Linked DNA regions of Homo sapiens. The protein of the gene in region 1 interacts with the protein of each later gene in a biochemical or structural test. Each region holds a gene or a part of one and is shown on either strand. Other genes may lie near its edges.

The links.
Region 2: of the proteins of MAPK6 (region 1) and USP20, one has a biochemical effect on the other in vitro, tested with the Homo sapiens proteins (one study listed by BioGRID).

The regions. Positions count from the first base shown.
Region 1 is NC_000015.10:52,022,040-52,025,852, forward strand, and holds part of MAPK6 (mitogen-activated protein kinase 6), read left to right. Parts: intron 1-3,813. UniProt on the Homo sapiens protein: Atypical MAPK protein. Phosphorylates microtubule-associated protein 2 (MAP2) and MAPKAPK5.
Region 2 is NC_000009.12:129,838,164-129,841,976, forward strand, and holds part of USP20 (ubiquitin carboxyl-terminal hydrolase 20), read left to right. Parts: intron 1-3,813.

The DNA.
Region 1 (3,813 bases):
GGGGCTGGGTGCGTTGGCTCACACCTGTAATCCCGGCACTTTGGGAGCCTGAGGTGGAAGGATCGCTTGAGGCCAGGAGTTCAAGACCAGTCTGGGCAACATAACGAGACCCTGTCTCAATTTTTAAAATAAAAGAAAAAAAATTTCCCACCCCATCCTCTGGTTTTTCTGTGTATACTGTTTATTTTTCCAAAGGGATTTGAGGAGTTTGTGGACAGTAAAGTGTTTGTTGTTTTTGTGAGACAGGGTCTTGCTCTGTCACCCTGGCTGGAGTGTAGTGGTGCGATCACTGTTCACTGCAACCTCTACTTCCCGGGCTCAGGTGATCTTCCTGCCTCAGCCTCCGGAGGAGCTGGGACTACAGCTGTGTGCGACCATGCCTGGCTAGTTTTTCGTATTTTTTGTAGAGATGAATGTTCACAGTGTTGCCCAGGCTGTTCTTGAACTCCTGGGCTCAAGCAATCTGCCTGCCTCAGCCTTCCAGAGTGTTGGGATTACAGGTGTGAGCCCCTGCTCCCAGCCCATAAAATGTATTGTTAATGTGAATTAAATTTTTGGAACTATTTTGGAAGAGTATTGCATGATTTATACCTAGAGGTTTTTTTTTTACAAAGTTTAATTCAAACTTAAAAAAAATTTCCTACTAGAGGAAACATAAAAATACAAATATAAAAGTATTGAAAATTTTCAGAGCATCACATTACTTAGAGGTTTAACGTATTTTCGGCATTGTTTTCAAATATAGGTAATTAGCTGTAGTGCATAATTCAGAGTTTAAAAACAAACTGAGGCCGGGGGCAGTGGCTAACGCTTGTAATCCCAGCACTTTGGGAGGCTGAGGAGGCAGATCACGAGGTCAGGAAATCGAGACCATCCTGGCCAACATGGTGAAACCCCGTCTCTAATAAAATACAAAAATTAGCTGGGTGTGGTGGCACGTGCCTGTAATCCCAGCTACTCAGGAGGCTGAGGCAGGAGAATCGCTTGAACCCGGGAGGCAGAGGTTGCAGTGAGCCGAGATTGTGCCAGTGCACTCCAGCCTGGGTGACAGAGCGAGACTCCGTCTCAAAAAAAAAAAAAAAAAAAAAACCGAAAAACAAACAAAATAACTGGATATCTTAGCCTGCTTCCTGTCTCCAAGGTACTGCTTTATGAAATGCTGAGCCTTCTTACCACTGCTATCCAGTTCTTTGTTACATTTGAACCTTGTGTTACTCTAGGTCCCCTGTTAAAATGGAAAGAAGATGCCTCAGAAGTAAATTCTGTGTGGCATTGTTGGCTGCCTTCATTAGTTCCTTCAGCCTGTTTTGTGGGCTGTTGAACATTACACTACAACCTGCCAGTGGTGTGGGAATTTTGCTCATTTTTATTGCTGAGAGCCTTGACTGAGACTTCACAAAAACAACTCCAATGTTACTGTAGTTAATGGCATTTTCCAGGGGTTGCTTTCATGTGAAGCTGATGCTTTTAAGGTGACAGTGATTTGGGCCTAGTCCAGCATTGATTGGTTTTTTCACCTCCATGAACTGCGTATTTGGAAAATAATGTGTGTCTCTCTAAGAGTTTTTTTGTTTGTTTGTTTTTTGTTTTTGAGACGCTGTCTCCCTCTGTTGCCAGGCTGGAGCGCAGTCGCGCCATCTCGGCTCACTGCAACCTCCACCTCCTAGGTTCAAGCGATTCTTCAGCTTCAGCCTCCCGAGTAGCTGGGACTACAGGTGCGCACCACCATGACCAGCTAATTTTTGTATTTTTTTTAGTACAGACAGGGTTTCATTATGTTGGCCAGGATGGTCTCATCTCCTGACCTTGTGATCCGCCTGCCTGGGCCTCCCAAAGTGCTGGGATTACGGGCATGAGCCACCGCGCCCAGCCAATAGAGTTCTAAAAGTTTTGTCTTTTATACATGTCAGTCTTCTAAGTCCATTTCTAAAAAATTGTTCAGAGATTGAATGTTTGTATAGCAAATACAATTTCCCATTGATTTTCGTTAAATTTGGTATTTTTTTCACAGAAAAAAATGGTATCATAAAACTTGTTTTTTAGAATCCTAGCATTTACCTCAGAAAAGTCTGCCTCTGCAGAAAGTGCAAATCTGTATGCATTTAATTCTGTACAATCATAAAACTTTAAAATATTAGTGTTTTGGAGGGGTCATGGGCATTATCTTGCTTCATTCATGTACATCGTTTGACAGCTAAGGAAACCAAGGCCTGAAGAGATCTAAGATCTTGGTACTGAAAGTGTGATTTCTGGACCAACAGTATTAGCATCACCTGGGAACTTGATAGACGTTAGAATCTTGACTTCATCTCAGTCCTACGGTCCTACTGAATTAGAATCTTAGAATCTACTTTTTCTTTTTCTTTTTTTTTTTTTTTGGAGACGGAGTCTCACTCTGTCACCCAGGCTAGAGTGCAGTGGCACGATCTTGGCTCACTGCAAGCTCCGCCTCCTGGGTTCACGCCATTCTCTTGCCTCAGCCTCCTGAGTAGCTGGGACTACAGCTGCTGCCACCGCGCCTGGCTAATTTTTTGTGTTTTTAGTAGAGACGGGGTTTCACCGTGTTAGCCAGGATGGTCTCGATTTCCTGACCTTGTGATCCGCCCGCCTCGGATCCGCCCGCCCGCCCAGCACTCCCAAAGTGCTGGGATTACAGGTATGAGCCACCGCGCCCGGCCTTCTTTTTTTGTAAATAAGAGGCACAATCTTGCCCTGTTGCCCAGTTTGGATTGGAGTGTAGTGGTGTGATCATAACGCACTGCCACCTGGAACTCCTGGACTCAAGTAATCCTCTCACCTCAGTAGCTGGGACTACAGGCATGTGCCATCATACACTGCCTTTTTTTTTTTTTTTTTTTTTTTTAAGAATTGGAGTCTCACTGTGTTGCCCATGCTCGTCTCAAACTCCTGGCCTCCTAACGTGCTGGGAAGAACCTGCATTTTAACAAGATTTTCAAGTCATTCAGTGCGCATTCAGTTTGAGAAGCACTGCTAAACGATGCATACACCTGGGCAACATAGTGAGACCCTGTCTCTACAAAATAAAATAAAATTAGCCTGTTGTAGTGGTGCACACCTTTAGTCCCAGCTACTTATGAGGCTGAGATGAGAGGATTGCTTGAGCCCAGGAGGTTGAGGCTGCAGTGAGCCGTGATCGCACCGCAGCGTTCCAGCCTGGGCAACAGCAAGAGACCCTGTCTCAAAAAATACGTAAATAAATAAAAATTAAAATGATGCATACATGGTTGCTCAGCTCGTTAGTCTTCTGAGTTGCTCTTTCCACTGGCCCTTCTGAAAAAAGTCAAATGGAAAATTTGGAAGCTAATCACTGCCCAGTTGAACTTTCTATGATGATAGAAGTGTTCTGTGCTATCCAGTGAGGTAGCCATTGGCCATGTGTGACTGTTGAATACTTGACGAGCAAGTAGTGCACTTGAGGAATTGAATTTTTTATTTAATTTTAATTCCTTTAAATAGTTGGGGCTGGGCGCCGTGGCTCACGCCTGTAATGCCAGCACTTTGGGAGGCTGAGGCGGGCGGATCACGAGGTCAGGAGATCGAGACCATCCTAGCTAACATGGTGAAACCCTGTCTCTACTAAAAATACAAAAAATTAGCCGGGTGGCGGGCGCCTGTAGTCCCAGCTGCTTGGGAGGCTGAGGCAGGAGAATGGCATGAACCCAGGAGGCGGAGCTTGCAGTGAGCGCCACTGCACTCCAGTCTGGGTGACAGAGCAAGACTACGTCTCAAAAAAAAATAAAAATAGTTGGATGTAGCTGGTGGTTACATGGACAGCACAGATCTAGATGATCT
Region 2 (3,813 bases), on another chromosome or scaffold:
CCTGAGTAGCTGGGATTACAGGCGCCCACCACCACACCTGGCTAATTTATGTATTTTTAGTAGAGACGGGGTTTCACCATGTTGGCCAGGCTGGTCTCAAATTCCTAACCTTGAGTGATCCGCCCGCCTCAGCCTCCCAAAGTGCTGGGATTACAGGTGTGAGCCACTGTGCCCGGCTAACAACAAATATTTAAAGGCAGGAAAGTGGCAGTGCTCTTTGGCTCCAGTGAGCAGTCATGGCTCAATAAATAGAAATTTCAGGAGAGCCAATTTCCATTGATTATAAAGACTTAGGTTTGTAGCAACTAGAGCTGCCCTCTGGGAAAAGGGTGATTTTATCATCAACGACTGCTCAAACTGGGTTTGGAGAACAACCCAGTATGGCTTTTACAGAGCAGAGTTGTGCCTTAAGGGGAAGATGCATGGTTTCTAAACCCCTTTAAACTCTGAGATTGCATGGGGGAAGGCAGCTGCAGATCATGCTGCCTGAAAAGAGAGGATCTGATTTCAGGCCCCAGAAATCATGATTTTCCTAGTTCTTAGTTTCCGCATCTCTAATGTGAGTTTTTTCTAAGGTTTCTAGTCTGAGCTTCGAGACTGAGTTTCTGCTCATGCTTACTCACCACTGAGTGTGAGGCTTTTAATGACCTGGGCCAGTGACTGGCTGCAGCCTAGGGTAGCCCCAAACCCACGCCTTCTCCAATTAAGGGACTCTTCCGGACAGAGCTCAGAGCAAAGGGTAGTAGCAGGCTTTGAGCTGCAGGGAGATACTGTCATATCCTAGACTGAAGGAAGTTAAGCTGAGCAGAAAAATGCTCTGAAGAATGACTCAGAAGAGGCTCTTGTGAGGAAGCTTCCTTGGAGTACGCGTGTTTGGATTTGGGGAGGTGAAGGTCGTCCCCATGCCAGGCTGGCCGGGGCTGTTTGTGACATCGTGGAGCTGAGTGTTCAGAGCATGGGCTTCAGGGCAGGTAGTCGTGGGTTCGAATTTTGGTTCTGCAGCTCAGTAGCTGTGTGACCTTAGCCAGTTATTCCACTTCTCTGAGCCTCGGTGTCTCCATTGTTAGTGATGGAGATGGATTTAGTTTGGAACCTTGCCACCTCCCAGGGTGGTTGTGAGGGTCCAGTGAGGTCACATGTGAGAACACCAGACTAAGATGTTAGTGTCAGTTCCAATATTCAGGGCCGTGGGGCAGGGGGAAGGGCGATGAGGAGACACAGAAGTGTGTGGGCAGCAGAGACTGTGGAAGTGTGGAGGCATGGGGAGGCCTGAGGGCTCTGCTTCGAGAGTCAGAGGATGGTGGCCTCCGAGTGAGGACTGGGTTAAGGGAAGGGGTGGGTGTGTCTGGGACTTAGGGAGAATGCTGTTGTGTGGAGGTAGAGTAAAGACAGCAGGAGGGAGAGAAAGGGTGTGCGAGGGCCAGAGGGGACTGTGGAGGGGGTGGGCACACACCCTGTGCGGGGCTGGGGGTGTGAGATGGCTAATGTGGTTGGGGTCAGCGTGGGCAGGGCTGTGGGCATCGTTGTGTGGGTGGGAGGCCCAGAAGTGTCGCCCTCCCCATCCTGAGGGACTGGTTCCTCGCTGGGAGGAGGAGGATGTAGCCAGAACCTCTGGGAAAACAATGAGTAACAGGCACCAGAGGCAGCCAGGTCCAGATGTGCTGCCTACCTAGGACCACAGGCTGTGCTGGCTGGTCCCTCCCCTGCCCTTCCTCAGGCCTTGCCCCTCCACTTTGCCCCTGTGGGTGGAGTGGCACTTTCCCCCACCCTGGAGGCCCAGGGAAGGAAAGCTGCCTTTATGAGCCTGAAGCATCTTGGAGGTCTCCTGGGGCCAGCAATGGTGGGCTCTTTGCCAAAAGTCTCAGGCCTTCCTCCCCCCATCCTGTGCTCTCCTGCCCCAAGAGAGGAGGCTCTGGTGGGCCGGGAGGGCGGGGCACACGCTGCACCTTGCTGACTTGTTGTACAGTAGGTCCTACTCTGCGTGGCTGCACCTGGAAGCACGTTCTTTCAGCTGCACAGGTGTCTTTCCCTTTTGGCCTTTATGAAATGCCTGCTGTGCACACTCCATATATTTGCACAGAGGCACAGGTGGGACGGAAAGAGTGGGGAAAGCAGACACAACCTGCTCGCTTCCTGCTGTGTTGCTTCCTGTCTGGGACCTTCCATTCCTCCTCTGTGAGATGAGAAACAGCCGCCCTTGCCCTAGAGAGTGGGTGAACAAAGCCCTGGGTACCAGGTCTGGAGGCTCAGTGGGTGCTGGGTCCTGGATCCTGCGATGGGGCTGCCTGTTCCAGAAAACCCGCTCCCTGCTCCCACCTCAAAGGTGAGAAAGGGAATCTATTTTTTTAAAAAGTCAAACTTAAGAAAAATTACAAGAATACAATGAACTCCCACATACCCCTCACCTAGATTCACGAATTAGTAACATTTGCCTTATTTACTCTAACTCTAATCTCTATAGTTATTGTCATAATTATTGCTGATTCAGGTAGGAGTAAGCTGCAGACATCACAGTCCTTTTCCCCTAAATATCCCAGCGGGAATTAACTAAGAATAAGGATATTATCATACATAACCAAAGCGTGAGTTCCACCTTTAGAAACTTTTTTTTTTTTTTTTTTTTTGAGATAGGGTCTTGCTCTTGTCACCCAGGCTGGAGTGCAGTGGCGCCATCTCAGCTCACTGCAACCTCCGCCTCCCAGGTTCAAGTGATTCTTCTACCTCAGCCTCCCGAGTAGCTGGGACTACAGGTGCCCACAACCATGCCCGGCTAATTTTTGTATTTTTAGTAGAGACGGGGTTTCACCACGTTGGCCAGGTTTGTCTCAAACTGCTGACCTCTGGTGATCCGCCAGCCTCAACCTCCCAAAGTGCTGGGATTACAGGCGTGAGCCATCACTCCCGGCCTAGAAACTTTCACATTGATGGAATCATGTATTTGTTTCCCAGACCTGCCATAACAAAGTACCACAGACTGGGTGGCTTAAACGACAGAGATTTATTTTCTCACAGTTCTGGAGGCTAGACGTCTCAGATCAAGGTGCCGACAGGTTTGGTTCTTCTGAAGGCCCTTTCCTTGGCCTGCAGATGGCCATCTTCTCACTGTGTCCTGGCTTGGTCTTTCCTCTGTGTGAGTCCGGATTTTCTCATCTCATAAAGATACCAGTAAGATTAGATTAGGGCCTGCCCTAAAGATCTTATTTTAACTTAATTACCTCTTTAAAGACATTATCTTCAAATATGATTACATTCTCAGGTCCTGGTGGTTAGAACTTCAGCATATGAATGGGGGAGAGAGAACAATTCAGTCCATAACAAATACTATGATCTAACAGGCAGTCCACACTCAGGCATGCTGGTTGTCCTGGGGATGTTCTTTGTGGCATCCCCCCACATTGACCCACAATCCAGCTTTGTTATGTCTCCTCAGTGTCTTGCCTGGAACAGTTTCTCAGCCTTGGTGGAGAAAGGGAACCTTCACGTTGCAGGGAAGCAAAGGTGCTCAGCAGGAATGGGGGTTCAGAAGCGCAGGCTGCCCCAGGACAGGGAAGCTGTTGAAGGGTTTGCTCTAGTCCATGAAGTTGCCTTTCCTGGCTTTTTCTTTGATGTCAAAAGCACCAGGAGGTGAGCTTAGATCTCAGGAAGCGCACCAAGAATCCGTGCATGAGTCCCCTGCGGTGTGTCTGACTCCATCACCATGGCGCCTGTTCGTTGCTGGGCTGGTTGGCCTGCAGAGCCCTGAGTGGTCTCATGGAGGGTGCCCTTCTGAGTGACCTTGAGCATGTGACTTCTATTCCTACCAATTTCAGTGTC